7 linked regions of the Homo sapiens genome follow. The protein of the gene in region 6 purifies or fractionates together with the protein of the main gene of each other region. This does not show direct contact. Each region holds a gene or a part of one and is shown on either strand. Other genes may lie near its edges.

Region 1 (3,620 bases), on a different chromosome or scaffold from region 6:
GGCTGGAGTACAGTGGCACAACCATAGTTCACTATAGCCTCAAACTCCTGGGCTCAAGAGATCCTCCTTCCCCAGCCTCCCGAGTAGCTAGGACTACAGACTCATGCTACCACACTTGGCTTTTTTTTTTGTTTGTTTTTTGTTTTTTTTTTTCCTGTAGAGACAGGGTCTTGCTGTATTGCCCAGACTGGTTTTGAACTCCTGGCCTCATGTAATCCTCCCACCTTGGCCTCCCTAAGTGCTGGGATTACAGGTATGAGCCACCATGCTTGGCTAGGAATTGCACATTGTTTGATTTGATCCTCAATCACTTAGGATCTTTATTCGTTTTTTAAAGCACTTTTTGTTTATTAGAATAGGTAATATATTTACCAATTTCTAAAAACTTAAAAGTATACATTGATAATTTCCCACCCCTTTACCTCAGGCACCCAATTCTCCTCCAGAAAAAAACCAATGTTACCAATTTCTCTATTGGCTTTCAATGTGCTTACTATTTGTATATAGTAGTTATATTAAATTTTGTTCCTCGATCTTGCAACTAGAAATCCAGCTGAATTATTTTTAGTATTTGTAAGTTATTTTGGATTTTATACACATACACACCATCAACATCATTACCTGCAAAGGGCAGTCATTTTGTTGCTTCTTTTCCATTCTTTATTCCTTTCACTGATGTTACTGCATTGGCTAGGATATCTCTAAATAAAGTAGCTGTTAAAGTAGCTGGATAGTAGCTGTGATAGAGGGCAACCTTGTCTTATTCTTGACTTTAACGAGATCGCTTCTGTTTCATTTGCTATAGGTTCTCAATAAAAGTCTTTATCAGGTTAAAAAAAAAGTTACCTATTTTGCTAAGAATGAGTAGCATGAATATTTTAATCAAGTTATTTTCTGTACCTATTGAAATGATCCTATGGTTTTTCTCCTTTAACCTATTAAATGTGCTGAATCACTCATAGAAAAAAAAATAGTAGTCTCAAACACTTTTACCCCAAGTTGTTGTTTATTTTCATGAGGGGGGAAAAAAGAATCCTTTATGATAGTGAAAATATACTTTATTTTTTAATACAATAGCTGCCAGCAATATACTGGTGCTGATGTTCCAAAGATAAAAGAAAATACATGCATTCTATAATAAGCTTTCATTTGCCTGTTCAAGAAATTATAAAGAAAATACTCCAATTCTGTTCAACATTACGGCTTGAGGAGTTGAAATTTTTCCATGATAAAAATATACTTTGTGTGGCCCAAACCTTGACTATTTATAAAGGATGGAGTTTTTAAAAGCCCACATGTATCAATAATGGATGCTCCCCTCTCTTTGAATTAAATGCTTAAATTCAAATTAATGCAAGAAATTGGTGAATCATTAAATGATGAAATTTGTATCAAAATGTTCATGAAAAAATACATTTCTATTTCCTCTACATTTTTACTTTGTAGTTATTTTCTAAATGGGTTTAAGGGCACAGAAATAAATGCTATCTACATGCAACTCTGGAGAGATTCAAAACACAACAGAAGTTAACATGCCTAAATCCTAGAGTTGATCCATTTAGTGTAAGAATAAATGTCAGAAATCTCTTAATTGTATACAGATTGCTCAAGGATTTAAAGATAAATTGTGAAAGCCAAAATTACCAAGAAATAAAATCTTATTTGAATTTTATCACAAAAGTTTACAGTCCTAGTAAAAGACAACAGAACTGTATAGAATATCTGCATCTACATCAAAAAAGGGAAGTTTTATCAACTAGAATAGAGAGCTTTCCAACTGCTGAATACAAAAATTTCTCAGAATCTCTTGGAAAACAGATCCATTCAGACTCCAATCTCCTCACTGAAGTAAAACACAAAAGGTGTTTAAATGAAGGGGAATGGATGTTAGTTGTAAAAATAAAATCAGATTATTTCCATTATGGCAATTCATATACTGCATGAACTGTCTACCATGAAAACTTTATGTCCCAAATTTCTCAAGATGTTAAACTATGCTCTTTCCACAAACATACAATGGGGTTAAAGCATGTTGCTGGGTCGTCCTTTTTACTAGCTAGCTTTTGTCCATTTACCAATTTCCATTTCATTTGACTAACTTCCCTGATAAAGTGGTATCTGTGTTTCTACAGAGAAAAATAATTCTGTCTTCATCAAAATCACAATAGACATGCCTTCCTAGAACATTTAGAGGGATGGCCAGGTGTAATCACTGGTTTAATAAAAACAGGAGAATATCCAAAATGAAAATATTTGAGTTTCAAAATGAATTTTCATCACTGTATTCTGAAGAATGTAGTTCTTTCCTCTTGTTAGCCCTCCACCTCGCACCACTCAGTCCACCATTCACTGGAAAGAACAAACCTCACTGCTCTTGAATCTTTTTTATACTTTAAGCTATGAGGCAAGGTTCAGAATCACCAGAATGAATCCCAAGTTGCCACTATTTAAAAAGTAGGTGAAGAATGATAATGCCTGCCTGTGTACTGGTGCAGATGGGACATTTTCACCCACTAAAACCACTGCAAAATAATTTCTCAATAGATAACTGAATAGTGCATCTTCCTTGAACCAGATAAATCATACAATATTTAATTACCAAAAAAAAACCAAGCGGGTACTCAAACTTTTGATAAGCAATAAAGAGTTCTAAGAAAGGTAAGGCAAAGAATCTTCCTGAGCCAAATGGATACAACATGGAGATTTTCTTATCTTTCATACTAAGCTAATTAATGATAGGCTCAAAAAATGCAGTATACTTATAAAAAGCCGCTTTCATAAAGCCAGTGCTTACTAAATGTTAGCATATCAAAGTGGGAGAAACACTGCCATTTTAAAGCAATAAACTTAAAATTTCAAGAAACAGCCTATGAGAAATAGCACTTCCTATACAAATTAGGTATAAAAAAATTACCAAAAATGTATTATAGTCACAATCACAGTCTTTGGAGTAGTACGTAGAAAGTCTGGTTTTGCTTTTGTCTTTTAAAAAAGAGTAAATACATAGCAAAGTTTTATTTTCAGCAAGTTCATCCTCCTGTTAGAACACAAATAATTCCTGGTTTAGGGCTTCAATTAAAAAAAACCCCGAAAAACAAAACAAAAACATGCAGAGTGCTATTCCTCAACATGGCTGTTGGAAAATTTAACTCCAGGAAGTGCAATGAGTGAGATCAGGCAAAACTACAGTAAATACACACTCACCATAACTATAACTTAGTCCCAAAGGAATGAACAATCCTCTATACAAGGTAAATGGGGTGAAATGAGAAAATTGGTGACCTGTGTTTTATCTTTCTTTTATATAGGATGGATAACGCATTCTTTAGGTCATCTACATTAAATGTACTTTAGAAACAAAAATTTACTTGATATTTTGACAAACCCACCCTTCATTCCTTAGGTTAATTTCTGTGTTAATTTTTACATTACTAATCATTGTACTGCTATAGCTAAGTCAACTAAAAATCAGTTATGTAGTGTTGCTCAACAGATGTACAAATAGCAAGCTCTATGATTACGTAAAAACAAGCTTTTTAAAATAAAGAATGCAATAAAGTTCCAAATGAATGGCACAGGGCAAAACACATATAACAAACGTATTTAGACAGAGTATCAGG
Region 2 (4,432 bases), on a different chromosome or scaffold from region 6:
GTATGAGTAAGGAGAGTTAAAAATAAAGAGAAAAAGAGAGCATTTGTTAGCTGGAGTAAAAGGAAGGGTACAGGAAAAGCATCATAGAGAAGAGAGAATTTGATCTGACTTTAAAAGATGCCGAGTCGGTATATGGCATTCTGTTCACGAGCTTTCCTTGTTGAGGGGACATCACATTTACTAACTTGAGAGATAATACATGGGAAGTGTTGGACAAAGGATACTGCATCCAGAATGACCTTTCTAAACTACAAAATCATTTCCCCTCTTTCCTGCTTAACCCTCCCTCAGTGGCTTCTTATCTTTCTTCAGATAAAGGACTGACTCCTAAATGTCTTCATCATCACCAATTTGAACACACATTGTGTCTCACACTCCTCCTCGTTCCTCACTCTTCTTCCCCAAGACTGGACAGAATGTGAAGAAGATATGATTTCCACCAGATGGAGTACTCTTTATACTTTTTTGGGGTCCTTTATGGTTACTTTTTGTGGCCATGGTCAGGTTCTTATCCATAAAATAATTATTGATAACTTCCTAATGTAAAATGAAAAATAATGATAAATCACATACTTCCCTCATTTTTACAGAATTCCTTGCTTGCCTTATCTCTTCAAGTGTTGACTGCAAGGTTCCTGTACACTTACTTGAGTTGGCCACTCCGGTCACTATACCCTGATCTCTGACACTTGGCCGTGGTAGCCTGGAGCAGCATTGTTACTGGGCATTGCTGTGATTGGGTTACCCAGCTGTGCTGATGTGGAAACCTCAGGGCTATTTATTGATACTTGGTTTCCTAAAGGAAAGTTGAGGGAATGTATTTTATGAGAGGGCTTTATTTACACGATTAAAGAGGTTTATAAAATGTGGAGATGAATATAGGTGAAACAGAGAAAGAATGCTGGTATAGGAGGTGTTTTCGGCTGGGTTTGGTGGCTCATACCCGTAATCCCAGCACTTTGGGAGGCTGAGGCGGGTGGATCACTTGAGTCCAGCCTGGGCGGCGTAGTGAGACCCATCTCTACAAAAACTACAAAAATTAGCTGGGCATTGTGTTGCATGCTTGTAGTCCTGGCTACTCAGGAGGCTGAGGTGAGAGGATTGCTTGAGCCCAGGAAGCAGAGGTTGCAGTGAGCCAAGATCGTGCCACTGCACTCCAGACTGGGCAATAGAGTGAGACCCTATCTCAGAAAACAAACAAAAATCCCCAAAAAACCAGGAAGTGTTTTCTTAGGGTCTAGTTCCCAGGCGAATGGTATATCCTGATTCTAGGTTTATAAAAATAGTATATTATTCATAACATTTGTCTAAAGTGACACATTTACATACAGTATATAGTATTGAGTAATTTCCAACTCTTTAAAAATAATGGAGACCCTTTCATGTAGTAGTAACTATGTTTTTAGTATCTGTTGACTGAGAAAATACGTAACAGCAAAAGCTACTATAAAACTTTGAAATAAGTTCTTGTAAATGTAAAAAAAATTCTCATATATTTGGAAAGTATACATGTGGAAATTATGACTTATAGAGTCTATGGACACTTGATTTCTTGCTTTATGGATACTCTCAGGAAGTTCTGGTCTCAACTTTGAGTATCTCATTGTCCTCTTACTTTAGAATGTGGGGTATGGGGGAAAACTTCTATTTGAAAATTTGAGCCATAGCGGAAATTTTGGAATGACAGGGAAACACCTTCTCAGAATCCTCTTACAATAAAATTTATATATGTTATGCCAGACAATGTACTTTATACTAAGACTGGACTTTTAAATAGTCTCATGGATTAGAAGTCAGATACAATAAATAAATACTTTTTAAAAATTATATTTTTAGGTATATGAGCATTGTTGTTGGGACTACAGTGCTATTTTAAAGTGAAATTTAGTTGATTTGCATGTGAGTATACACCTACAGGTCTCTGTTATAGCCGTGACATGTCTTCTGTTACTATAAATTACATAACAAATCCTTATGGTTTCTTGGGTCACTTATTTTATTTAAAGACAAAAACATCTTTCAGTACATATGTAAGACTTAAGGCATTATTGAAAATAAGCCTGTGCTACATGGTAGAATCTATTAAAAAAAAAAAAACACTCAGGCAAGGCACAGTAGTTCATGCCTGTAATCCCACCACTTTGGGAGGCAAGGAAGGAGGATCACTTGAGGCCAGGAGGTCGAGACCAGCCTGAGCAACATAGGAAGACCTAGCCTCTACTAAAAATTAAAAAAAGAAATTAGCAAGGTGTGCTGGCATGCACCTGTGGTCCCACCTCCTCTGGAGGCTGAGGTGGGAGAATCGCTTGAGCCCAGGAGTTCGAGGCTACAGTGAGCTATGATTGCACCACTGTACTCCATTCTGGGTGACAGAGCGAGACCCTTTCTCAAAAAAAAAAAAAAAAAAAAAAAAAGCAAAACCAAAAACCGAAAAACAACTCAGGACAGTCTTTGTATAAATTAGATAGCCCTAAATTTTATGTTTGTTCTTTCATTTCTCTTTTTTTTTTTTTTTTGGCTGCCGCCCAGGCTGGAGTGCCATGGCAGGATCATAGCACACTGCACACTGTAGCCTTGACCTCCTGGGCTCAAGTGATCCTCCCACCTCAGCCTCCTGAGTAGCTAGGACTACAGGCTTGTGTCATCATGCATGGCTAATTTTTTAAAAAAAATTTATGTAGAGATAGGGTCTCCCTATGTTTCCCAGGTAGGTCTTGAACTCCTGGACTTAAGCAGTCCTCCCACCTTGGCCTCTCAAAGTGCTGGGATTATAGGCATGAGCCTCCACGCCCAGTACATTTCTTTTGTTTTTATTGTGTTTGATTGTCAGAGAACCTGAGTTTGGTTGGGGTTGAGAGAGAACTATAGGGCCTATTATAGGTGAATACTTATTTTATCTTAGATTAGTGGTGTGTAGCTAAGGAAAGGTAAGGTCATATCTTCCTGTAACAGTCCAGATTAGATAGGGAAATGGGTGAAAAGCCACAAGTTGTTTTGCAACTCTGGTCTCACAGTAATTGAGAGCAAAAAGGAAAAAGTGCACTGTAGTCCCCCTTGTTTCTGATTTTGTGGGGTGTGAATATGCCTTCTAGTCAGATCGCCTTAGGGGGCCAGGAAGAGGAGGGTTGAGGGCAGAGCATGTTTACCTGCGTGCAGAGCCACTTGAAAAATTATAGGCTCATTTACATATTTGCATCCTTGTGTATGTGTTTGTGTTGCAGGGGAGTCAGTGTAGTATTATGAAAAGAACATTTGACAGTGAATTGGAAAACTAGGTTTTTCTAGTCTTGTTTTTGCCTGAGTCGTTTAAGCTTCTTGTGCCTCAGTTTTCATATCTGCAAAATGAATGAATTGGACTGGGTAATACCTGGTGTTGCTTTAAGATTCTGTAGGCTGGGCATGGTGGCTCTTGCCTGTAATCTCAGCACTTTGGGAGGCTGAGTCGGGCGGATCACGAGGTCAAGAGATTGAGACCATCCTGACCAGCATGGTGAAACCCCATCTCTACTAAAAATACCAAAATTAGCTGGGCGTGGTGGTGTGTGCCTGTAGTCCCAGCTACTCAGGAGGCTGAGGCAGGAGAATCACTTGAACCCGGGAGGCGGAGGTTCCAGTGAGCCAAGATCATGCCACAGCACTCCAGCCTGGCAAGAGAGCGAGACCCCGTCCCCCCCGCAAAAAAAAAAAAAAAAGATTCTGTAATTTAAGGATTATTTTAAAGTCTCCAACTTTCTGTAATTTTTAATGGAAAAATATAGTTAATACAGTATGCAAAATTATGTCTTTTTAAAAAATATTTTGTTCAAGTTGACTATCTTGTGCGATTCACTATAAGTGTTACACTGCATCTAAGATCTTATGTTTGAACTTCGTAGCCTAGTGTGCCCAGTAATTTGAGCTACTGGCAAAGTTACATAACCCTTTTAAAGATTTAGTATTTAAAGAATAGATTACAATGTATCAGAAGCATCATATTAAATATCCCATCTGAAGTAATGGTATTAAGGACTAGAAATTATGTCTTTCTAAATGTACAGCTGGGAATTGCTTATTTATGCTTGACAATAGATTTCAGATGAGAAAAGTCCTCATTTAGCAGGATATATTACCATTGGAATTTGCCTCTGATTACCCTATTAAATATATTTAACTCTTAAGGTTGGTTAATCTGGTCTTATTTTTAAAAAAAACTTCACTGTGAGTTTTAAAGAAAAAAACTTGGCTAATTTGATGATTTTAAAAAGTATCTTCTCTTGCCTGTAAAATTCACTTATAAGATTTGTCCTTTTTATGAGAGAATATTTTATACACAAAAAAGAATATATAGTGTCTATATAAGGTATAAAGAATATTTTAAAAAAATCTGGGTACCCTCATCCAGCTTCAGAAATGAAATGTGAAAGATGCCTGTGAGACACACATTTCCTGTACT
Region 3 (4,976 bases), on a different chromosome or scaffold from region 6:
CTGGAAATGGCCTGACTTCCCAGAACTGCAGACCCATCCATACTGAAACAGAAAGTACCAAAGTGCATTCCAAAGACACAGGCTTTCACTTCTGCTTCTGGCCAGAGCACTTCCCGGCATTGTCTCTTCTGACAAAAAGGCATAGAAAAATATTCTTGGCCTGGCACAGTGGCTCACACCTGTAATCCCAGCACTTTGGGAGGCCAAGGCAGGCAGATCACTTGAGGCCAGGGATTCAACACCAGCCTGGCCAACAACAGTGAAACCCAACTCTACTGAAAAAAAAAAAAAATACATATATATATATATATGAAAGCCGGGAGTGGTGAGGCATGCCTGTGATCCCAGATACTTGGGTGTCTGAGGCACGAGAACCACCTGAACCCAGGAGGCAGAGGTTGAAGTGAGTCAAGATCGTGCCACTGCACTCCAGCCTGGGCAACAGAGCAAGACTCTGTTTCAAAAAAGAAAAGAAAGAAAAAATACTGTTTCGATTTGGGGGCACTTTAAGAACTAGAGCCCACAAGCAACACTTACATGTTCAAAGTCTCTCTCAGCTTTCCAGCTAACAATTTATCAAAATTCTCTCCTGCACTTGTGAACTGTGGCACATCATCTTCTTTTTCTTTGGAATAGATTCCTAAAACAAGGCCCTGGGAATAAGCAAAAAACGTAAATATAATAGAATTAGAGTAGATCCCTTAGAGAGGCTCAGGAGTCCCCAAATTCCAGAAGGAACAAATAATTCCACCCAAACCGTGTCCTCCCCATGGACAGAAGAAAGCAAAAAAAGAAGCAGGTGCTGGGGTCAGCTACATGTGCACCTGCCCAAGTGTTTCAGATTCCTGCCAAAGCAAGACCCATCACTGCCCGTCCTGGACATTGCCCTGGGTTTCTGTGCTCACTCCTAGGAGACGGCTTCACTTTCAAATAAAGCAGAAAGATGTTTTGTTTAAGAAAAATCTATTTGTCACCAAGATAGACCCTGAAAGGATTCAGAACATGCCACTCCAAAATATACCGCTTTGGCACATTAGTTATTTTCAGCCAAAGGCGCTTGAGAAACAGCAGGTGCAGAGGTACTCTCTGACCTCCCTTTCTCCCTAAAAGCAGGTCACACAAATTCCCATGAGAAAGGTGATCTCCCTGTACCAGGAAAAGGAGAACATTCTTATCACCAGAAACTGGAAGTCAACACCAAAATGGACCTGTACAAATAAACCTACTGAACTCACCCTTATCTTCTGTTAGTTACCCCCATATGATTTCCTAGTCATTATTCCACAATTTACTAACCCAAGCCCCTTTGTCTTGTCACACCCCCACAATGCATTGTTCTTTGTTTAAAAAGGTATACAAGCTTTTGGGCCCAACGCTTCTTCAGGTCTTCATTTTCCTCTTGCAGACTCCTGTGTACACGTAAAAATAGTAAATAAAATCTGTATCCTTTTCTCTTGTTAATACATCTTATGTCAGTTTTCTTAGGCCCAGCCACAGAACCTAGGAGGATAGAGGGAAGATTTTCCTCCCCTACAATCCTCAAGTGCAAATCCCAGATATTCTAGGATGCCGTTCCAGTCAAGCCAATGGCTGTGCCTCCCATCGTAAGGACTGTTGCCACGTAAGGACTGTGGTCAACACAGAGGCTGTAAGAGAAGTACCAACTTCCTAGGGAGGGTAGAAGCACTCTGCTAAGCACTTAGCGGCTCACTCCCTTCATCTCCTTCACAAGTCTCAGGTCTCAAATACCAGAAATGAGGAAGCAAACCTAGTAATACTTAGTATTTACTTTTGCACGGCAATTTATGACTTTAAAAATGTTTTGTCTGCCTCATGGCAACTCTGTGAGGTGGAAAGAACAAGTAGCCTTATCCCCCTTGACCGATAAGGAAACTGAAACCTAGTTTGAGACAGGAGCTCCTGTGTGGTGTGGTAGGACTGAGTGAGAATCCAGATGTCTTCCCGCCCAGCAGTTGATCTTTCCACAAAACCACACAGACACTTAGAATAGTGCCCTCTCGGTCTTTTCCACCAAAGAAAACGGCCTTCCTTGGCATTGGTAACTCTGCCAGGTTCTAACTTCCCTAAGATTGTTCACTCCCCGGGAATCAATGGAGCCAACTGAGCAACTGTTATCTGGGTAGGCTGTGGCACAGTACTGGAGATAGCACTGGTCAGGCGACTGGTCCCTCCACCACTGAGATACCTGCAGGAGACTGGAGCTCAAGCTCCCCCTAGAACGTTCTTCTGCAGGGACAGTCATCTCTTTCTGGTGCTTAGGCATGACTCCCAAGCTTGTGCTGGTTCCGAGAGCCATTCCCTTTGCAGATCCTTCACATCTGAAGAGCGACCTTCGTAATTTTTTGGAGTTCACTTTTCTTCTGGAAGATGCTCTTAATTCTGGGAAACGTGGGTCTCTCCCCAAAGCCCTTTTCTCTAGAGAGGCATGCTTTTCCTCTAGAAACCCTTCCAAGCTACTTAACTCCCTGACCTTTCACTTCCGCGGGGGAAGGAGCCCTGTGACTCTGGGACCTCAGAAACCCTTTCACCTTGGCAAACTCGGGCTTCCTCCAAGCTCGGATGGGAGCCCCACCGCCGCGTCTTTCCCCGGGTTACTGCCAGGACCGCGGGTGACGACTGGAGCAAGTGCGCGGCCGAGTGGAGCCGGGTAAAGGGCGGCTACAACCATCACCCCCTAGCCCCGAGCAGGGGAATCGCGCCCTCAATACGACCGCTGGGGTCCTCAGCGGCCTAGGCCGATCCCCGCAAGGAGAGAATTTTTCTTTTAAACTGATTTTTGCAACTTGGCTTGGGCGCCCAGGACACCGCGGCTTCGACCAGCCCCGCAGCCCCAGTAGCCCACGGGCAGGGCCCCAGCGGCGGACCATGAGCGAGCCGCCGCCTCTCACCTTCGTCATGTCTGCGGTGGAGAGACTCCGGCTCCCGAAACGTCTCACGGCCAGACGTCGGACGACTACTCGCCCCGCAGCCGGAAGAGGCAGCAAGAACATCTTGTCGGCTCGGCCCCTCGCACCGCCCTCCAGCGAGCACGTGGAGAGCGGTGGGCGGGCGCGCCTTGGGGCGGGGCTTTCGGGGCGCAGACGGCGTGCGCGCGGACTGGCTCGGGCGCCGGGCGAGCGGACGTGCGTCTAGGGGGCGGGACGGATGGGCAGCACCGGCCGACTGGACCGCTGGGATCAAACCGCGGTTGTGGAGGGGACTCAAGGGTGCGCCCGCATTCGTGTGCGCCCGCATTCGTGTGCGCCCGCATTCGTGTGCGCCCGCGCATGCGGGCGGGGGCGAAAAGGCGGGGCTTCCGGACGCGGTTGACAGTCCCGGGAGCAACGCGAAGTAGAGGGGCGGGACCGATATGGTGACGTCACACGATGGGTGGGGCGGAGGCGGGGCGAGTTCTGCAAGCGGGCGTGGGCGGAGCGCTGGGCAACTCCCGGGAAATAGAAACTGAGTGCCAGAGCTTGTTGTCAAGGTTGCTGAATAGACGACTGCATAGTGAAGACACTCCCACTGAGTTTTCGTTTGTTTGTTTGGTTTTTTTGAGTCGGAGTCTCGCTCTGTCACCCAGGTTGGAGTGCAATGGAGCGATCTCGGCTCACTGCAACCTCCCGCTGCTTAGTTGAAACGATTCTCCTGCCTCGTCCTCCCGAGTAGCTGGGATTAGGGGCGCCCGCCACCACGCCCAGCTAATCTTTGTGTTTTTTTGTTGTTTTTTTGGATTTTTTTTTTGAGGCGGAGTCTCGCTCTTGTAGCCCTGGCTGGAGTGCAGTGGCGCAATCTCGGCTCACTGCAACCTCCGCCTTTCGGGTTCAACAGATTCTCCTGCCTCAGCCTCCCGAGTAGTTGGGACTACAGGCGCCCACCACCACACCTGGCTAATCTTTGTATTTTTAGTAGAGACAGTGTTTGGCCATGTTAGCCAGGCTGGCTTTGAACTCCTGACCTCTGGTGATACACCCGCCTCAGCCTGCCAAAGTGCTGGGATTACTTACAGGCGTGAGCCACCGTGCCCGGCAACTCTTTGTATTTTTAGTAGAGACGAGGTTTCACCATGTTGTCCAGGCTGGTCTCGAAGTCCTGACCTCGTGATCCACTTGCCTCGGCCTCGCTAAGTGCTGGGATTACAGGCGTGAGCCACCGCACCTGGCCTGAGTTATTTTTATTCGTGTCCTTTCATCTGTTCCACAGGTGCAACGGTGTAAATACTGTTTTTGAAAATGATGTAACACTATTAGGTTCGTTGACTCGTGCACATAGCAAGTCAATACGCCCAGACACCAGGGTTGCAGCAGAGAAAGAGGTGTAATCGTGGAGTCGCCAAAGGAGGAGATGGGAGGAAACCTCAAATCCATCTCCCTGAGGAATTTGGGGTCAAGGTTTTTAAGGGTTTTGGAGAGGGCTATAGTGTGGAGATCGTTGATTGAAGAGTGCAGGGTGAAGTCATGGGACAGGGCGTTGAAGAACCTGTATTCTTAAGCTGACCCCATTCCTCTCTGGGGATCTTCAAACTGGTAGCTGGAATTCAAGGTCTGAAAAATATCTTAAGCGATCCTTAAACAGAAAGCTTATGATTCTAATGTCAGAGATCCTGTCTATAGGAACAATGGGAATGCAAATGGTCAGTATGTAGTGCTAGGTGACTTTTAGCAACAAGGAAGTGGGCCAAAGTACAGCCTGATTAATGCTTAATTATAACTATATTTCTGCCTAGAACTTGGCATGAAATTTTTGTCAACACAGTGGGGATGGTTTCAATAGAAAGTTTTCAAGTAGTGCTCAATATTTTTATATATTTTTATTTTCTGTAAAGCGTTTTGTTTTTTTTAATTCCTTATTTTTTACTTTTTTTTTTTTAACGGAGTCTTGCTCTGTCACCCAGGCTGGAGTGCACTGGTGTGATCTCAGCTTATTGCAACCTCCACCCCTGGGTTCCAGCGATTCTCCTGCCTCAGCCTCCCAAG
Region 4 (4,432 bases), on a different chromosome or scaffold from region 6:
TAAGTGAAGTAACTCAGGAATGGAAAACCAAACATTGTATGTTCTCAATTATATGGGAGAGCTAAGCTATGAGGACGCAAAGGCATAAGAATGATACAATGGACTTTGGGGACTTGGGGGGAAGAATGGGAGGGGGATAAGGGATAAAAGACTATAAATATGGTGCAGTGTATAATGCTCAGGTGATGGGTGCACCAATATCTCACAAATCACTAGTGTAAAGAACTTACTCATGTAACCAAATACCACCTGTACCTGAATAACTTATGGAAAAATAAAATTAAAAAATAAAAATTAAACAAAACAGATCAAAACTAAACTCTATGGAAGCTGAGGCGTGGTGGCACACCTGCAGTCCCAGAACTTTGGGGGTGCCAAGGCGGGTGGATCACTTGAGGTCAGGAGTTTGAGACCAGCCTGGCCAACATGGTGAAACCCTATCTCTACAAAAAATACAAAAATTAGCCATGCGAGATGGTGTGTGCCTGTGGTCTCAGCTACTTGGGAGGCTGAGGAACAAGAGTTGCTTGAACCAGGGAGGTGGAGGTTGCAGTGAGCCAAGACTGCACCACTGCACTCCAGTCCGGGCAACAGAGTGAGATTCTGTCTCAAAAACAAACAAACAAAAAACTCTACAGAATAAAAACGTCCTGGCTGAAAAAAAGGAAGTCCTGACTTTGGAGTATCAGAGGGTTGGGGATACATGATCAGGGTTGAAACCACTTTGCCCTTAGCCCAGGATTTGTAATCTTTTTCCATATATATATATTTTTTAATTGGTTCATCCTTCCAGAACCCAGCTCAGAAAATTTGGGAAAGAAAGAAAAGAAAAAGTTTTAAACCCACCCATCTCTCCCTCTTAATATAATTAATGGCAAATTTTCTTTCCTCCAAATTTTTTAAATATAATTTTTCCTAATATACTTGTAATCTCAGTAAAAACAAAAACAAACAAAATTTTAAAAATCCCACAATTTTGCTTTCTACATTTACCACTTGAAATTATTTAGTGTTCACTTTCTCCGTAATATCAGTTACCACCATTTTCAATAGCAGAAAAATAGTCCATTAAACTGATATACTATATAATTAGCCATTAAGGTAGATATTTAAATTATTTCCAATCTTTTGCTGCTCTAAATGAAAATGTCCACTGGAACATTATGAATATAGCTTTTCCTCTATTTTGGATTATTTCCTTAGAATCCAGTCCTGATTATGTAACTTTTAAAGGACATGAATCTAGAAGTAACCCAACAAGACAATTCATCACAGATTACTATGTATTGACCAAAACATGTCAACTGAGAGGCAGAATAGTATGTATAAGCTTTGGAGTTATGAATTTGAACTCATCTCATTAGCCACTGGTCTCATCTTAAACAAGTAACACTAGGATCCATCAGTTCCACTGTCCTTTTATGGATACAGAGCTAATTAAATACTTTTAGGAATTAGAATGACTCCCTTAACTGTGGGTTCTCCTGATTTTAACTTTTAAAGTCTGGGATTCCGTTAAATCCAAGAAACTTTTTTTGAGTCCTACTACATGCCCTGGTTCTATGTGAGGGACAGGTAAAACAGAGAGAAGACTTAGACCCTGCCTTCAAGTGTTAGCAGCCTTGGATGTGAAAAATACTACAAGAGAAATAGATACAGGCATAGAACGGATGACTTTCAGGGAAAACTTTGAAATGATGGAGTGATTTCCTACGGATAAAAAGTTCATTAAGGAGAGAATGGGGAGGGGGCCTGCTCCAAGCGAAGGCATAGGAGATTGAAATAAACGTATCACATTGGGGAACTGCTAGGGTTTCAGCCTTCATATATGTAAGGTGGAAAGAGAAGAGCAGCAAGATGTGAAGAACTAGAGGGATCACACCATAGGGCTTAGATTTCAACTTCTAGGTCAGTATTTCCAAAGACCAGCATGAAAAATGATTTTAGGTGGCACAAGGACAAAAATATATGTATTTTAAAATATAACAAAATATATTCATATATTATAAAAGGACATAAGTAGAAAACTCACACGTGATTTCACCAATGTTATTACATAGGATTAAGTTAACTAAAGAAGTGGCGTCTTTAAAGAATCATGAAAGCACTTGAATGATACAGCACGTTTTTCCTTTATGAGGAGACTTAAGGAGTTTTAAGCAAGGGAGTAATATGAACATAGGTTTTAGAAAGCTCCATCTGGTGTAACGAATGAATTAAAATGGTGAAATGCAATGGTAGGGAAACCAGTTAAAAGACTGTTGCAAAGGCCCAGGTCAGATATGGTCAGAATCTGAACTAGGTACTGAGTAATGAAAAGTAAAGTTTTAAGATATTTAGGACATTGGGACTGAGGGATGTGGGGAGTTACTGACTGGGAAAGAGAAAGCAGAAGAGTCTTGAATGATTATCTAGAGCTGTGGCTTTGAAAACTAGGGTGAATAGAATGAAAAGAAAGGTTTTTCTTAGTGTGCACATGTGGATCAGGAGAGAGAAAACAGGAGTGTAACTATTAATTTTAGTTTGGCAGGGGTTGAATTTGTTACTCCAGATGGACACTATAATAATGTAGAAATAGAAATAATAAAGGTTTCAGTTCAAGGAGGTGAAAACTAAGAGATACCTGAAGTAAAGACAAAGCATAGATTATAAATGAAGTAGAAATGTTAGGGACAACGATTATATTTTGTTGTCCTGAACAGAGGAAAGGTCTTGCTTGAGCTTTGGTTACACATTTATAAAGTGGTAAGACAGCGAAGTAAAAAGAGCTCCCCAGAGAACCTCCCACCAGCCTTTGACTGGGAGAACAGGGTGGAGCCACAGAAGTTCATGCCATTGGCAGACGCAAGGAGCCTGGCCTCTTGAGTTCCTGTGTGGCAGGGTAGGAGCAGCTCCCTCTTCCTCTGCTGAGGTTTTTCTCTTTTTCCTTTTTTGCCCAATAAATTCCATTATTCTCACCCTTCTGTGTCCACAAGACTGATCTTTCCTGATTGTGTGACAAGAACTTAGATGAATTGAGAAGAAAGTCCTTTTTTTTTTTGAGACAGAGTCTCACTCTCACCCTAACTGTGTTTGGCGCTCAAATATGGGGCCTGAGGAAGTGAGGCAGGAAATTGAAGAAAGCAAAATAAAATTTAAAAAGTGAAAAACAAGCTTTCTATATGAGGCTGACTCATCCCAAAGGCAGTAACAGGCAAAGCCCTGACCCGGGTGTAGTCTTGATAACATTCTCAAAGAAACCAGGGCTCAAAGGATGTGCTCTGGAGACTCTTCCAGCACTCCCTCAACAAAAGGATAAGAAAAAGTAAAGTTCCCCCTTGAATCCCATCCCCTTCCGTGTGATTGTACCTTGCTCTGCAAGTTTTATGAGTTTATAGATTCCTGTTTTCTGTAACTAGTAACTTCAAGTATTCTGTTTTATCTAAACAGCACAGTGAAGGTTATAAGACATGCCTGAGTAGGCCTAGGCTGCGGCCGTCTGGGCACCATAGTGAAGATTATGAGATAAGCACTTGCAAGGCTCTTTTGAGCAAGCCTAGATAACAGCCACCTGGGCTGCATAAGCAAGGGTCATAGTGAGAGGTGACAGTGTGCTGGAAGTCCTCACAGCCCTCGCTCCCTCTCGGCGCCTCCTCTGCCTGGGCTCCCACTTTGGCGGCACTTCAGGAGCCCTTCAGCCCACTGCTGCACTGTGGGAGCGCCTTTCTGGGCTGGCCAAGGCCAGAGCCGGCTCCCTCAGCTTGCAGGAAGGTGTGGAGGGAGAGGCGCGAGCAGGAACCAGGGCTGCGCGGGGTGCTTGTGGACCAGCTGGAGTTCCAGGTGGGTGTGGGCTTGGCGGGCCCTGCACTCGGAGCAGCCAGCCGGCCCTGCCGGCCCCACGCAATGAGGGGCTTAGCACCCGGGCCAGTGGCTGCAGAGGGTGTACTGGGTCCCCCAGCAGTGCCGGCCCACTGGCGCTGCGCTCGATTTCTCACTGGGCCTTACCTGCCTTCTGGCGGGGCAGGGCTCGGGACCTGCAGCCTGCCATGCCTGAGCCTCCCACGCCCTCCGTGGGCTCCTGCACGGCCCGAGCCTCCCTGATGAGTGCTGCCCCCTGCTCCACGGCGCCCAGTCCCATCGAGCACCCAAGGGCTGAGGAGTGTGGGCACACAGCGTGGGACTGGCAGGCAGTTCCACCTGCAGCCCCAGTGCGAGATCCACTGGGTGAAGCCAGCTGGGCTCCTGAGTCTAGTGGGAACTTGGAGAACCTTTATGTCTAGCTAAAGGACTGTAAATACACCAATCGGCACTCTGTATCTAGCTCAAGGTTTATAAACACACCAATCAGCACCCTATGTCTAGCTCAGGGGTTGTGAATGCACCAATCGACACTCTGTATCTAGCTACTCTGGTGGGGACTGGGAGAACCTTTGTGTTGACACTCTGTATCTAG
Region 5 (4,432 bases), on a different chromosome or scaffold from region 6:
TGGGAGGCCGAAGCAGGCGGATCATGAGGTCAGGAGTTTGAGACCAGCCTGGCCAATATGGTGAAACCCCGTCTCTACCAAAAATACAAAAATTAGCTGGGCGTGGTGGTGTGTGCCTGTAGTCCCAGCGACTCGGGAGGCTGAGGCAGAAGAATCGCTTGAACCCAGGAGGCGGAGGCTGCAGTGAGCCGAGATTGCGCCCTCAAAAACAAAACAAAACAAGTAACATCCTCGCTAGACAGTGGCTTGTAGCCCTTAATTTAAACCTGGCCTAAAACTGCCTCCATGCCTAGGGAGCTGTCACCTAACTTAATATGCACACAAACTACAACATAATTTGAGAGTATATTCCTGTAATAAAAACCAAGTCTCAGCCAACCATGCATGGCAGCTGAGCTTTCAGCCAATTATGGGCTGCAAACTGCTCAGACATGTCCTAATAAGGCAAAGCAGAGCTGTATCCAATCAGGCTATCTCTATATGTCACATCCTTTCTTTCTTTTTTTTTTTTTTTTTCTGAGATGGGGTCTCACTCTGCAGCCCAGGCTGGAGTGCAGTGGTGTGATCTCGGCTCACTGCAATCTCCAACTCCAGGATTCAAGCGATTCTCCTGCTTCAGCCTCTCAAATAGCTGGGATTACAGGCAAGCGCCACCACGCTCAGCTAATTTTTGTATGTTTAGTAGAGACATGGTTTCACCATGTTGGCCAGGCTGGTCTCTAACTCCTGACCTAAGGTGATCCTCCTGCCTCGGCCTCCCAAAGTGCTGGGATTATAGGTGCGAGCTACTGCGCCTGGCCATGTCACTTCCTTTCTCTGTCTATAAATACTGCCTGCCTATGTCACTGGGTGAGCACTCTGAAGCTTTACTGGTTCAGGTGCTGCCTGATTTATGATTCATTTCTTTGCTCAAATAAACTAAGTCTAATTTGTCTAAAGTTTTTCTTTTTATAGGTTGCTAACACAATTTCCAGCCAAAGCCAAAGAAGCACCCTCATTTTGAAATGAGGGGTGAGAAGAAATTTAATAATTTGCCAACCAAGAAATCATGCAAGAGCCACCAAAAAAACTCAGAATTTACAAATCACAGAAATTTGGCAGAGATGATTACTTTTTGTATACTTGCTGAAGAGTAACTCAGCATTTTTATTTAATCAAAGTAGATAATGAAAGATTCAAATTAAAATAAAGGTTTACACTGTCAAAATGTCATTTTATAAAAAATGGAATCCCAGAAATTTGATAGTTTCATAAAAGTACTGCCCCACCATCTAACGATTTTCAGTGAAAGCAGCATAACCACTGTGATATAATGAAGGACTCATTTAGCCATATATCAACAGAGGCTGCTGTAGACTCAATAGTATTATTAACAATCACAGCATTCAGTTTAGTTCTATTTGGCATTTTTGCGTTCAAATCACTTTATAAATATTAAAGAGTAGGAATCCAAAAATAGATTTTTTTCCAAAAGCTTTCATAAATATTTAGTTGTACAGCTTTTATCAGCTTTATTAAGAGGTTTATATAAATCCTTGAAGTAACTGTTTAATTAGTACGTTTGGGGAATGGGAAAGGAAACTTGATGGCTAAAACAGTTTTACTATTAATCTATTTCCCTTAACCAAGTCTGACTTGTGATAGCAGCAGAGAAGGTGAACGGAGCTGAAAGGTCAGAGGGATATATTTTGAAGGAGTCAGGAATAACACCACTCATTTTCAAAATCTGCAGTGTGGTCCATTTCCAAAACAGAAACCTGACTCTGCAGGAATCCGAGTGCTTCTGCCAAGATGTTAAGTCTTAGGATCAGCCATTTATAGGCCCTACAAATATACATCATTCATTTTGTAGGTTATCTCACAGTTCTTAAAAGACATTATATCTTGTTAGCCTGGATTTATACGCTGCAGCATTTCTTCAAAAATCATACAGAAACCTCAATTTCCCTTAATTCCATTTAAGGAATTCAAATTCAACACACAATACTCAGCGTGCTACAAAGGAGGAACAAATCATGGGAAAGCTGTTCTTTAGTGTAAATGAAAATGTAAACCCTCACCTGATATCACGAATACAGCTTAGTCCTAATTCCTTTACACTAATACATTCATTTGCAAATATAGAAGATTTCAAGAGCTAGTAACACAAGACTTTTGGTGGTCTTTCTTTTTTTTTTTTTTTTTTGAGACGAGTTTTACTCTTGTTGCCCAGGCTGGAGTGCAACGGCGCAATCTGGGCTCACTGCAACCTCTACCTCCCGGGTTCAAGAGATTCTCCTGCCTCAGCCTCCCGAGTAGCTGGGATTACAGGCGAGTGCCACTACGCCCAGCTAATTTTTTGTATTTTTAGTAGAGACGGGGTTTCACCATGTTGACCAGGCTGGTCTTGAACTCCCGGCCTCAGGTGATCCACCCGCCTCGGCCTCCCAAAGTGCTGGGATTGCAGGACTTTCGGCTGTCTTTGATCTTTATAAAGTATCTGTACAAGGTATCTTTATACTTTTATAGAGCATTAAAATTTTATAAAAGTATTAGCTTTATAAAAATACTAAATTACAGATGAGCTAATAGTATTTTGCTTGCTTTATTAATATACAGAACAATTATTAGCATTACACAAAAAGTAACTGCCAATAAAAGTACAGTAAGAAAAATCAGTTTTGCTATCAGTAACTTTACTAATTCGGCCAGGTGGGGTGGCTCACGCCTGTAATCCCAACACTTTGGGAGGCCGAGGCAGGCGGATCACCAGAGGTCGGGAGTTCGAGACCAGCCTGACCAAAATGGAGAAACCCCATCTCTACTAAAAGTACAAAAGTAGCCAGGCATGGTGGCACATGCCTGTAATCCCAGCTACTCCGGAGGCTGAAGCAGGAGAATCGCTTGAACCCGGGAGGCGGAGGTTGTGGCGAGCGGAGATCATGCCATTGCACTCCAACCTGGGTGACAAGAGTGAAACTCCGTTTCGTCAAAAAAAAAAAAAAGCAAAAACAAAAAAACTTTACTAATTCATTTTTAAATCATTAAAAGTATATTAAATTTAGTTTGCCAAAAAATTTTAAAGCTTTACGAGCTGCCTAAAAATGGAAGTGAACTTTTCTGAGGATCCGACAAGATGGCCGAGGTAGAGCAGAAGAAGCGGACCTTCCGCAAACTCACCTACCGCGGCACAGACTTGGACCAGCTGCGGGACGGGACGTGTCCTGCGAGCAGCTGACGCAGCTGTACAGTGCGTGCCAGCGGCCGCAAGTGAACCCGGGCCTGCGGCGGAAACAGAACTCGCTGCTGAAGCGCCTGCGCAAGGCCAAGAAGGAGGCACCGCCCATGGAGAAGCCGGAAGTGGTGAAGACGCACCTGCGGGACATGATCATCCTGCCCAAGATGGTGGGCAGCATGGTGGGCGTCTACAACGGCAAGACCTTCAACCAGGTGGAGATCAAGCCGGAGATGATCAGTCACTACCTGGGCGAGTTCTCCATCACCTATAAGCTGGTGAAGCACTGCCGGCCCGGCATCGGGGCCACCCACTCCTCCCGCTTCATCCCCCTCAAGTAGTGGCTCAGCTAATAAAGGCACACATATTTCCAAAAAAAAAAAAAAAAAGGAAGTTAAATGGATGGTTTTGCCGGGGACTCACTGCAAACACCTACAACATTCCAAGGAACCAGACCCTTCAGTAGTGCTGGATAGGTGATGGTAATGCCAACCTACACGTGTTGGAGTTTTCAACAATGCTGTGCCATAAGCTCATGAGAAGTTATAGTCTGACAATGATGATAGACTTGAATTCTGGAATCTTGGGCAGTCTGTTCCAGAAATGATACACACTGGTACTTTCATTTCAAAGTATGAAGAAAGATAAACCACATACAGGAACAGCACAAGATTCCTAACAGGTTCTGTTGAACTTAAATTGCTTTAAAGATTTTTTTGCATTATCTGAAGAGGTAAGTCCAATAAAATTATCTAACTCTTCAAAAAGTCATTACATTTAACTATGGTGATAATGAGTCAAATTTAAAAATCACTTCTTTTCCTGAAAGAATCACCAGGTTTTGGTTTTGAGAACTCTGAAGGCAAGAAGCAGGAGGATCCAGACCGGAAAGCATTGAACCAGCCCTCTCACTCCATCTTCCTACACATAAAACAGAACAAAATAAACTATTGTCATAACTCCACACAATTATATTAAGAGACTAAAAAGTAGCCTCAAAAATGGCTGGTGATGTTCAAGTAATCTACAAATACCGGGTTTTAACAAATTAAGTAGGAAACAAAAGACGGTGAGTGGTAAAGTTGCTTTGGTTAAACTCCTACTTCCTCAACTTGCCATGTGACTTTAAGCAAGTTACAAGGCGTCTCTGTCTCAGCTGCCTCATGTGAAAAATGAGGATATCAGTCCTTAACTCACTAAACTGTCAGATTTTAATTA
Region 6 (3,769 bases):
CTTAAGTTTATTTTATAAGTGATATAATCTGTGCTTTATAACAACAGAACCTTTAAGAATAACTTAGGAAAAAATAATTATTTTTCTCTTTTCTGATCTTTGGACAGATTCAATAAATGTTATGATTTCTAGTGATTATCTACAACTTCCAAAATCATACCAACCATAATAACACTGTAAGTATTTAATGCAGCAAAAATTCAAGTTTTTTTTTTCCAATTTTGACTTTTCAAATTTAAATGCTATATATAGATATTTGGTTCCTTACACCAATGCCCATTAGGCTGGTGATATAAGGCTCACACACATTTTCTGGAAATATAAAAAATCTAAATGAGTTGTCTTGTATTTTTGGAAAATAAACTCAAGTGATTGGGTAACAGGGTCACAATTGTACTGGAAAAATGCTTTCTGACAAAATGATACTTTTCCCCCCCGAGTCAATCTAGATAATCAAGATTGGCTACAGCCAAATTATGGTGGAGCTGGCCCAAATTTTCATAACTCTGTGTTCAGTGATGTCATATTAGTAGTTTGAAATTGGTCAAAGGTAGGAGTATTTATACCACAGAAATCAGCAAAAGCTACCAATCAGAGGTTCCCCTCCTATTCTGAAGAGTCTTTAAATATTTGCCAGCACTTCACTGGCAATGGCCATTATTGTTTCAAAATACCATTCAACTCTTCATTGTTCATAAGAATCTTATTTGAAGATCTAAATGGTTGGGGGTGTTTTCTGTGTGAATCTGTCCTCGAAAAAGATTTAAATGTTTCTCATTCATTTATAGTCATGGAAATGTTAGAGTTTCACTGTGAAGGCCTTATTATGTGAGACCTTCCCCAAAGAGAGTTCTTCCTTTTATATCAGTTGTATTCTATTCCAAATAAACTGCTTACAATTCAATCTTTTAGAGATAGGGTCTTGCTATGTTCCGTAGGCTGGAGTACATTGGCATAATCATACCTTACTGCATCCTCATACTACTGGGCTCAAGCAATCCTCCCACCTCAGCCTCCCCAGTAGTTGGGAATACAGATATGTACCACTACACCCAACTAAAATTTGGATTGTTATTTGAAAAAATGGTATTCTATTTTTTAAAACTCAATCCATGCTTGTGAAGCAAAATATGTAGACTTCGAATAGAACCTAACAGATTATAGTTCTCTGTCATAAAGTCTATGTGGTTTAATGATAAAAGGTTAATTTAAAAATTTTGTAAAGTATAAAATAAACAATTTTATTAGATGAACTCATTTATTTGACATATTAAATTAGACAAAGAAATATATATGTAACCAGATAAAAACAATCACATTCTCATACTACTTGAACACATAGCAGTGGTCAAAAATAATGGATTGTAAAATGGACCCCAGGATTTAATGCAAAAACCACCCCATACGAGAAAAGTTTCAGGCTTCTAACTTCACTGAATCCAGTACTAAACGTGCTTCTTTATATTCCTCAGCTTCTTCCAAGTCTTTTTCATTTTCCTAAAATGAAATACAATAAAAATTAAGTTTATCCTTTTCAAGTTTCAGTACTTTGTTATTTACTCAAATATTACAAACCATTAATGTTAATAACTAAAAAATTAAAAGTAAAAAATCCCAAGCCTCATCTAAATATATTGTAATTCCACAGGTTTCCCACATTCTGTTCCTTCTTTACAAGGAAAGGAAGAAATAACTGGTGGTTTTGTTTCACTGTATATATTCTCATAAAATAAGTGAATAACAGTCTTCTAAAGCTACCAGCATTAATTAAATAAAAACCTCAGAAAAAGTTTATTCTCATTTTGTTGACCCATCATCATCATACAAAAGAGAAAAGTAAAAAGGAAGATTTACTAACATGTTACATATATGACAGCATTCAGGCCAAAATAATCCACTGACTATTCACAATGACAAAGAAGGCTTCTGATGTCACAACAGAGTTAAATATAATCTTTGAATTAAACAAATGAATTGCCTGCTTGCTAATGGGTATTACATACCCTACACTAAAGGAAACAAAATACATCTTTCATTTTCTGATATTTAAAGATTGAGTTTTTCCATAATACTGATATACAGGCAACTTTTACTAATATATTGTAATGATAACAGACAAATGAAATAATATTATCTAAAGTACACAGGAAATTTTGTTTGATTTTTAAATGAAGCTATGGTTAGCAATTTATGTCAGGTCAATAAAAGATGGAGATATACAAACAGTAGAGGAAATAAAGTATGTGTGTATTTAATATGAAAACTGAAAGCAAAACGACTGAGAATTTGCTTAGCTCAAACTATACGTAAGAATTTCTTAAACCTCCATGTTATACCTTAAACACATCTTTGTTCTCTGTTAGTAAATACAAGCTCTTCAAGGGCAGAGATATTGTTGAATACATCTTCACATACAAATATATCATCCAAATACATTATTATTATTATTATTATTTTGGTATTTTTAGTAGAGACAGGATTTCACCATGTTGGTCAGGCTGGTCTTGAACTCCTGACTCGTGATCCACCCACCTCAGCCTCCCAAAGTGCTGGGATTACAGGCATGAGCCACTGCACCTGGCGGCCAACATTATTTTTTTCCAAGCAATTTCTATTACTTTCTCAGCTACTAGATTCATGAGAGAAAAAAGCATTTAAACTGTCAAGAAATACAAATGATGCTTCCTGTCTTAGATAGTATTTTAACAGTTATTATTTCCTGCTTTATCTACCTTCTGTATCACAAGGCATTTATACCAGCAAGTATAAGTGTTATTCAGCTCCAAGTTAGTATGAGGGGACTACATAGATTACCAGGTTTTTTCCCCCTCTCAAACTGATCTAGGTTTGAATGTGAAAGAATTCAAGATCCTTTTAATAAGATCCCAAATTCTTTTGAAACATTAGATCTTTTAAAATTTTAATCAGTCAACTCATCCTCAATGTCTCAAAAGATCTTTATGTATGAAAACCAAATAATCAAGACATTGCTGGACAATACTGGTACTATCATAACTTAAATAAATTTAACTAGCTAAATTTTAATAAACTGAACAAACATGCTAGAAAACAGTACTTTTACTGGAGGCATAATTCAAAACACAATTTAAACTCCATTAATTATTTTAAAATATAGCGGTATAAAGGGCAAGTGAATAAGAAATACTGCCAACTAGTTCTCAGTGTTAAATATTTAAACTTTTGGCTTTCCATGTATTGGATTGAAAAAAAAAATTTAAACATGACACAGAAGTCTTTGCTTACTAGTATCCGTTGAAGATCCAAATATGCGGCTTCCAACCTGCGCTGGCAATCTGGGATCATCATCCTGGATTCTTGTAGGATCTCTGCCTAGAATGAGAATCTCTGTGAGACGTTCAAAGATGGCAGAACTTGTAGGTGTTTAGCTCATATCTTGGTAAGTATATCCTTATTAAGAGGAATCAGAAAAAAGTTATGGTTATGTTAAATGGTTCAATATTTTAACTTAAATTGTATTTATTAGAAGTTAGAAAGGCCAGGCACAGTGGCTCACGCCTGTAATCCCAGCATTTTGGGAGACCGAGGCAGGCAGATCACCTGAGGTCAGGAGGTTCAAGACCAGCCTGACCAACATGGAGAAACCCTGTCTCTACTAAAAATACAAAATTAGCAGGGCGTGGTGGAGCATGCCTGTAATCCCAGCTACTCAGGAGGCTGAGGCAGGAGAATCGCTTGAACCCAGGAGGCGGAGGCTGTGATGAGCTGAGATTGCACCATTGCACTCTGG
Region 7 (4,432 bases), on a different chromosome or scaffold from region 6:
TGCAAGACACAAGAAGATCTGATCCCTGTGTATGCCTCTCTGGCCTTGGCTTTCCTTTAGGTAGCCTACCCTCCTGCAGGACCAAACTCCAATCATGCCATGTTCTCTTGCAAATATGACTTTGCATATGCTTTCCCATTTCCTGAAGCGCCTCCTCTCCTCACCTGACCAACTCTTACTCAATCCTCAAGGTTCTGTTTAGATGAACCTCCTGTGTGAAGCCTTTCCAGATCCTGACACCTCTAAGCTGGATTAGCTAGTCCTCCTTTCTGCATGGTTGGTATTCTGGGTGAGACTCCATCACTGCAATTGTCATTGTGTTTCTCCAGCTACAGGATGGGGCTCCTCCAGGGTAGAAAACAAATTACAACCTAATGACCTAGCTGAATGAATAAAATACACAATATATTACTAATTTCAGTTCCCTCTGAAACCTACATTTGTGAAAAATAAAAAATAAATCTTAAGACTGTATCTGGACCTCAATCTCCTCTATCAGAAGTAATCTTTCTCAAGGGAAAGAAGGGGGGCATCCTTCCACTTATGGTTACTGATTGGGGTGCTGATGTCTCAGCATAAGAACCCACACATTTAATAGATGACATTTACTACATGCCACCCCAACTCCTCTCTGAATAGGCAGGATAAGAACAAACAGCATGAATCTGTGGATTTGTACAGTCACGCTCATCTCTCAGTCCCCACCTCCACCTAACTTGTGTGTGCTTCTTCACATCTGTTCGATCCCTGCTCTTCCCACACTCCAATGAATAAATGCCCTCCCCTGCTCTTCCAGGCCTGTGTCTAAATCCTTTCCCCCAGCAAGCCTAAGGTGCCACTTCTTCAGGACTTCTCTAGCTCTGAATTCCTACCACACTGGTCAGGTGCGAAGTGGTTGAATGTGTATATTATCAGATACCTGTCTGCCCTGAGTAAGCCCTCGCTTAAAATATTTGGCCCAGATGGTCAATATTTAGATTGTAGGTTGTTTAACAAGTCTAAAATATGGTCCCTGCTATTTAATAGCTAAAAAGCTATTTTAATTAAATGAAAAGATAAACGTAGCTGATTTGTTAGATGGCTGGGATTGAACAATTGTTAGAATTACTTATATTTTTTAAAAGTTAAAAACAATTACCTTAAAAAACTGTTGCAGATGGAAAGGAAGGGCTCTGAGGTCAGACACTATTAGTTCATCTAAGAGCAGTCAGGACTCCAAGAAATTGACTCATGCAATTTAAACACATTAATTCTAGAATGCCAACAAATTAGATGTAACAGGAAATATACAGTTCCAATGACTGGAACAATAACACCTAATACTCAGGGTACTCTGTAACCCATGCCCCATTCCAAGGCTTCTGGAAAGCTAGTTTAGTAATCACAAGGCAGCTTCAGCATACAATGACAGTAAATGGTGGTGAAATGTCCTGAGAGCTGTGCCATCCATGTTTCTCAGCCTTGGAGAGCCTGGGTAATTCACTACAGGGCAGTATTTCTTAAACTAATTCCACTGGAACTGAGCTGTGCCAGGTACCACCCACAGATGTGGAATAATTACTTTAAAAAATAATTCAAAGTTACATGGTTTTATTAAAGCCAGACACAGTATAACTTTCTCAGTGCTGTGATACCTGATCATCATAGATTTTTTTTTTCCCTTCTTGCTGGGGTGTTGTTTGTTTGTTTGTTTTGACAAATGTTTCAAGATGTTCACAGGGGGTTCCTAAGAGTGGTGGTGTTTTGCTCTCCATTGCTTCAGAAGCCTCCTCCTAGTGACCAGAACACCCCTGTCTACAGAAAGCCATACTTCTTCAGCCAATCTCTTATGATATCACTATCTCAGACTTACTGCAATTTAGTTAGATCCCAGCTTAGCTGCTATCTTTCCTTTTGAGATGGGGGTCTCTCTCTGTCACCCAGGCTGGAGTGCAGTGGTGTGATCTTGGCTCACAGCAACCTCTGCCTCCTGGGCTCAGGTGATCTTCTCACCTCAGCCTCCTGAGTAGCTGTCCAGTATGTTTGACCTGTCCAATATATTGTTTGTTTATTTATTTATTTTTGAGACAGAGTCTAGCTGTTGCCCAGGCTGGAGTGCAGTGGCACAATCTCGGCTCACTGCAACCTCTGTTTCCTGGGTTCAAGCGATTCTCCTGCCTCAGCCTCTTGAGTAGCTGGGACCACTACAGGTGTGTGCCACCACGCCCGGCTAATTTTTGTATTTTTGGCAGATACAGGGTTTCACCATGTTGCCCAGGTTGGTCTCAAACTCCTGAGTTCAAGCGATCCACCTGCCTTGGTCTCCCAAAGTGTTGGGATTACAGGCGTGAGCCACTGCGCCGGGCCACTGCTGTTATCTTTCTTTCCTTTTTTTTTTTTTTTGAGACAGAGTCTTGCTCTATTGCCCAGGCTGGAGTGCAGTGGGGTGATCTCGGCTCACTGCAACTTCCAACTCCCGGGTTCAACTGATTCTCCAGCCTCTCAGCCTCCCGAGTAACTGGGACTATAAGCACGTGCCACCACACCTGACTAATTTTTGTATTTTTAGTAGAGACAGGGTTTCGCCATGTTGGCCAGGCTGGTCTTGAACTCCTGACCTCAGGTGATCTGCCCGCCTCAGCCTCCCAAAGTGCTGGGATGACAGGGGTTAGCCACATCGCCCGGCCTGTCTTTCAATATACTCTCAGTATTATGAATTTTGGAAGGTATCAGAACTTACAAGCAGCATCAAACCTTCCCTTAGGACCCTGGCCACCAGTGTTCTCTGTTGTTATATTGCCACAACCTTAAAAAAAGGTGGAAGGTACTTTCTTAAGAGTATATTACTTCAACATGTTGATTTTCATTAGCTCCACTATTCTCATTCCACAAGCTGGGACAAAGAGTTCTGTTGTTACCACTCATCTTTTTCTAAGGCATGTTTTTTTCTCCCCACAAAATTTTCTATAAACTGACAATGCCTACCATAGCTATGTAATGCTAAAATCTAGCAGCAAGATAGCATATGATGTAATACCCAAAATAACAGATCCCATTATTTTACGTCTAATACAGCTGTATTTCATAGGAGCCTATATTTATCACCTCTAGGCATTTTCATCTCCTGAACAAGATGAAAAACATGAGAAAAAAAATCCAATTCTGAAATCTTTTACCAAAATCCAACAAAGTCAGAACATATAAAACTGTCTAATGTCTTTTTTAAAAAGTCCTTCCAAAAAAAATTGAAGTCTTTATTTCAGATACTGTATTTGATGCTGCATTCATTCACTCACTCATTCAATCAACAAATGTTTATGGAGTAGCTACTCAGAGGTAAGTACTATAACTGAAATGATGATCTAGGCTGAGAGCTTGCCCTCAAGTTATATTCCAACCCCAAGACTGAGTACCCAGGATCATACAGGCTCCAAGCTTAAAGGCATTCTAGGCAAAGTTAATAAAAATCAGTCAGCAGGCTTAAAAAAAACTTAATACATTTTACTTTGATGACCTTTTTTCATGAAAAACTGTTTACGAAAAAAAAAAGGCAAAAAATTTTCTCACACCTTCCTATGATCCAAACTCATCTGCTCAGCACAAAAGACCCTCACTGATCTGACATCCCCTCCTCCCGCCTTGCCTACCAGGTGATTCAGCTTTCCACTGCCACCTTCTCTGTGAAGCCTCCTTGAACTCTCTCCAGCGCCACTTCATCTCTAGGCAGAGTTAATTACTGCCTGCTCTGGTTTACCAAAGGATTACGCTGTAATTATTTGTTCACTCATCACTCCCTCCAGCTAGACTGGGAGCTCACTTTTGAAGACAGAGACTGAACCTTTGCATCCTGAGTATGAGAACAGTGATGGAGGGAAGGAGGTGAGTCACAGGCACAGAGAATCCACTATACAGTATTTGAAATAAATAGGCTATTTTTTCCCAAGGATTCTTTGCCCAATCATTTATACTTAAAATAAGTAAGACACATATTAGTGATGTGAAGTCACTAATTTTGAATGCTGGAGGAAACATGTTATTAGGGAAGCCCTCTACTGCTTTATGTTTAAGTTTCTTGATTGAAAAGTGCAAAAGAGTTTCCTCTTTTCTGGTTGGGTCTTTGAAAATAAGGTAAAAATGCTGAGATGACTCACTGACAGTGAGATTTCATACAGCAATCTTTTCTTCAATTTACGCTTGTAATCGTAAGATAATCACAAGAAGATGATAATACACTGTAGGGATGAACAGTCTTAAAAGACAGGCTAGGTGTTTTATTTTTTAGATTTTCAGGGGTTCTAGGTACCAAGCTTTTGACTTTCAATCACACATCTTATATGGCTTCGTAAGTCATGCTAGATGCCATTAGTTGCTACTTCACTGATCAATTTTCCTTACATGCCGCTGTCTGCACCTTCAGGATCAGAATAATAGGACTTAGAGCAGAAGGAATACA

The links.
Region 1: the proteins of TBCA (region 6) and CLIC4 fractionate together in Homo sapiens (co-fractionation; one large-scale study listed by BioGRID). This does not show direct contact.
Region 2: the proteins of TBCA (region 6) and MSRB3 fractionate together in Homo sapiens (co-fractionation; one large-scale study listed by BioGRID). This does not show direct contact.
Region 3: the proteins of TBCA (region 6) and LAP3 fractionate together in Homo sapiens (co-fractionation; one large-scale study listed by BioGRID). This does not show direct contact.
Region 4: the proteins of TBCA (region 6) and THEM4 fractionate together in Homo sapiens (co-fractionation; one large-scale study listed by BioGRID). This does not show direct contact.
Region 5: the proteins of TBCA (region 6) and TIGAR fractionate together in Homo sapiens (co-fractionation; one large-scale study listed by BioGRID). This does not show direct contact.
Region 7: the proteins of TBCA (region 6) and DGUOK fractionate together in Homo sapiens (co-fractionation; one large-scale study listed by BioGRID). This does not show direct contact.

Annotation. Positions count from the first base shown.
Region 1 is NC_000001.11:24,841,689-24,845,308, reverse strand, and holds the end of CLIC4 (chloride intracellular channel protein 4), read right to left. Parts: 3' UTR 988-3,620; downstream 1-987. UniProt on the Homo sapiens protein: In the soluble state, catalyzes glutaredoxin-like thiol disulfide exchange reactions with reduced glutathione as electron donor. Can insert into membranes and form voltage-dependent multi-ion conductive channels.
Region 2 is NC_000012.12:65,284,632-65,289,063, forward strand, and holds part of MSRB3 (methionine-R-sulfoxide reductase B3 isoform 2 precursor), read left to right. Parts: intron 1-4,432. UniProt on the Homo sapiens protein: Catalyzes the reduction of free and protein-bound methionine sulfoxide to methionine. Isoform 2 is essential for hearing.
Region 3 is NC_000004.12:17,575,501-17,580,476, reverse strand, and holds the start of LAP3 (cytosol aminopeptidase), read right to left. Parts: upstream 3,280-4,976; 5' UTR 3,012-3,279; coding exon 2,910-3,011; intron 654-2,909; coding exon 538-653; intron 1-537. UniProt on the Homo sapiens protein: Cytosolic metallopeptidase that catalyzes the removal of unsubstituted N-terminal hydrophobic amino acids from various peptides.
Region 4 is NC_000001.11:151,902,378-151,906,809, forward strand, and holds part of THEM4 (acyl-coenzyme A thioesterase THEM4), read right to left. Parts: intron 1-4,432. UniProt on the Homo sapiens protein: Has acyl-CoA thioesterase activity towards medium and long-chain (C14 to C18) fatty acyl-CoA substrates, and probably plays a role in mitochondrial fatty acid metabolism. Plays a role in the apoptotic process, possibly via its regulation of AKT1 activity.
Region 5 is NC_000012.12:4,323,495-4,327,926, reverse strand, and holds part of TIGAR (fructose-2,6-bisphosphatase TIGAR), read right to left. Parts: intron 3,588-4,432; exon of another isoform or gene 3,088-3,587; intron 1-3,087.
Region 6 is NC_000005.10:77,690,002-77,693,770, forward strand, and holds the end of TBCA (tubulin-specific chaperone A), read right to left. Parts: intron 3,352-3,769; coding exon 3,265-3,351; coding exon of another isoform or gene 3,121-3,264; exon of another isoform or gene 1,498-3,120; coding exon 1,417-1,497; 3' UTR 1,165-1,416; downstream 1-1,164. UniProt on the Homo sapiens protein: Tubulin-folding protein; involved in the early step of the tubulin folding pathway.
Region 7 is NC_000002.12:73,932,705-73,937,136, reverse strand, and holds part of DGUOK (deoxyguanosine kinase, mitochondrial isoform a precursor), read right to left. Parts: intron 1-4,432.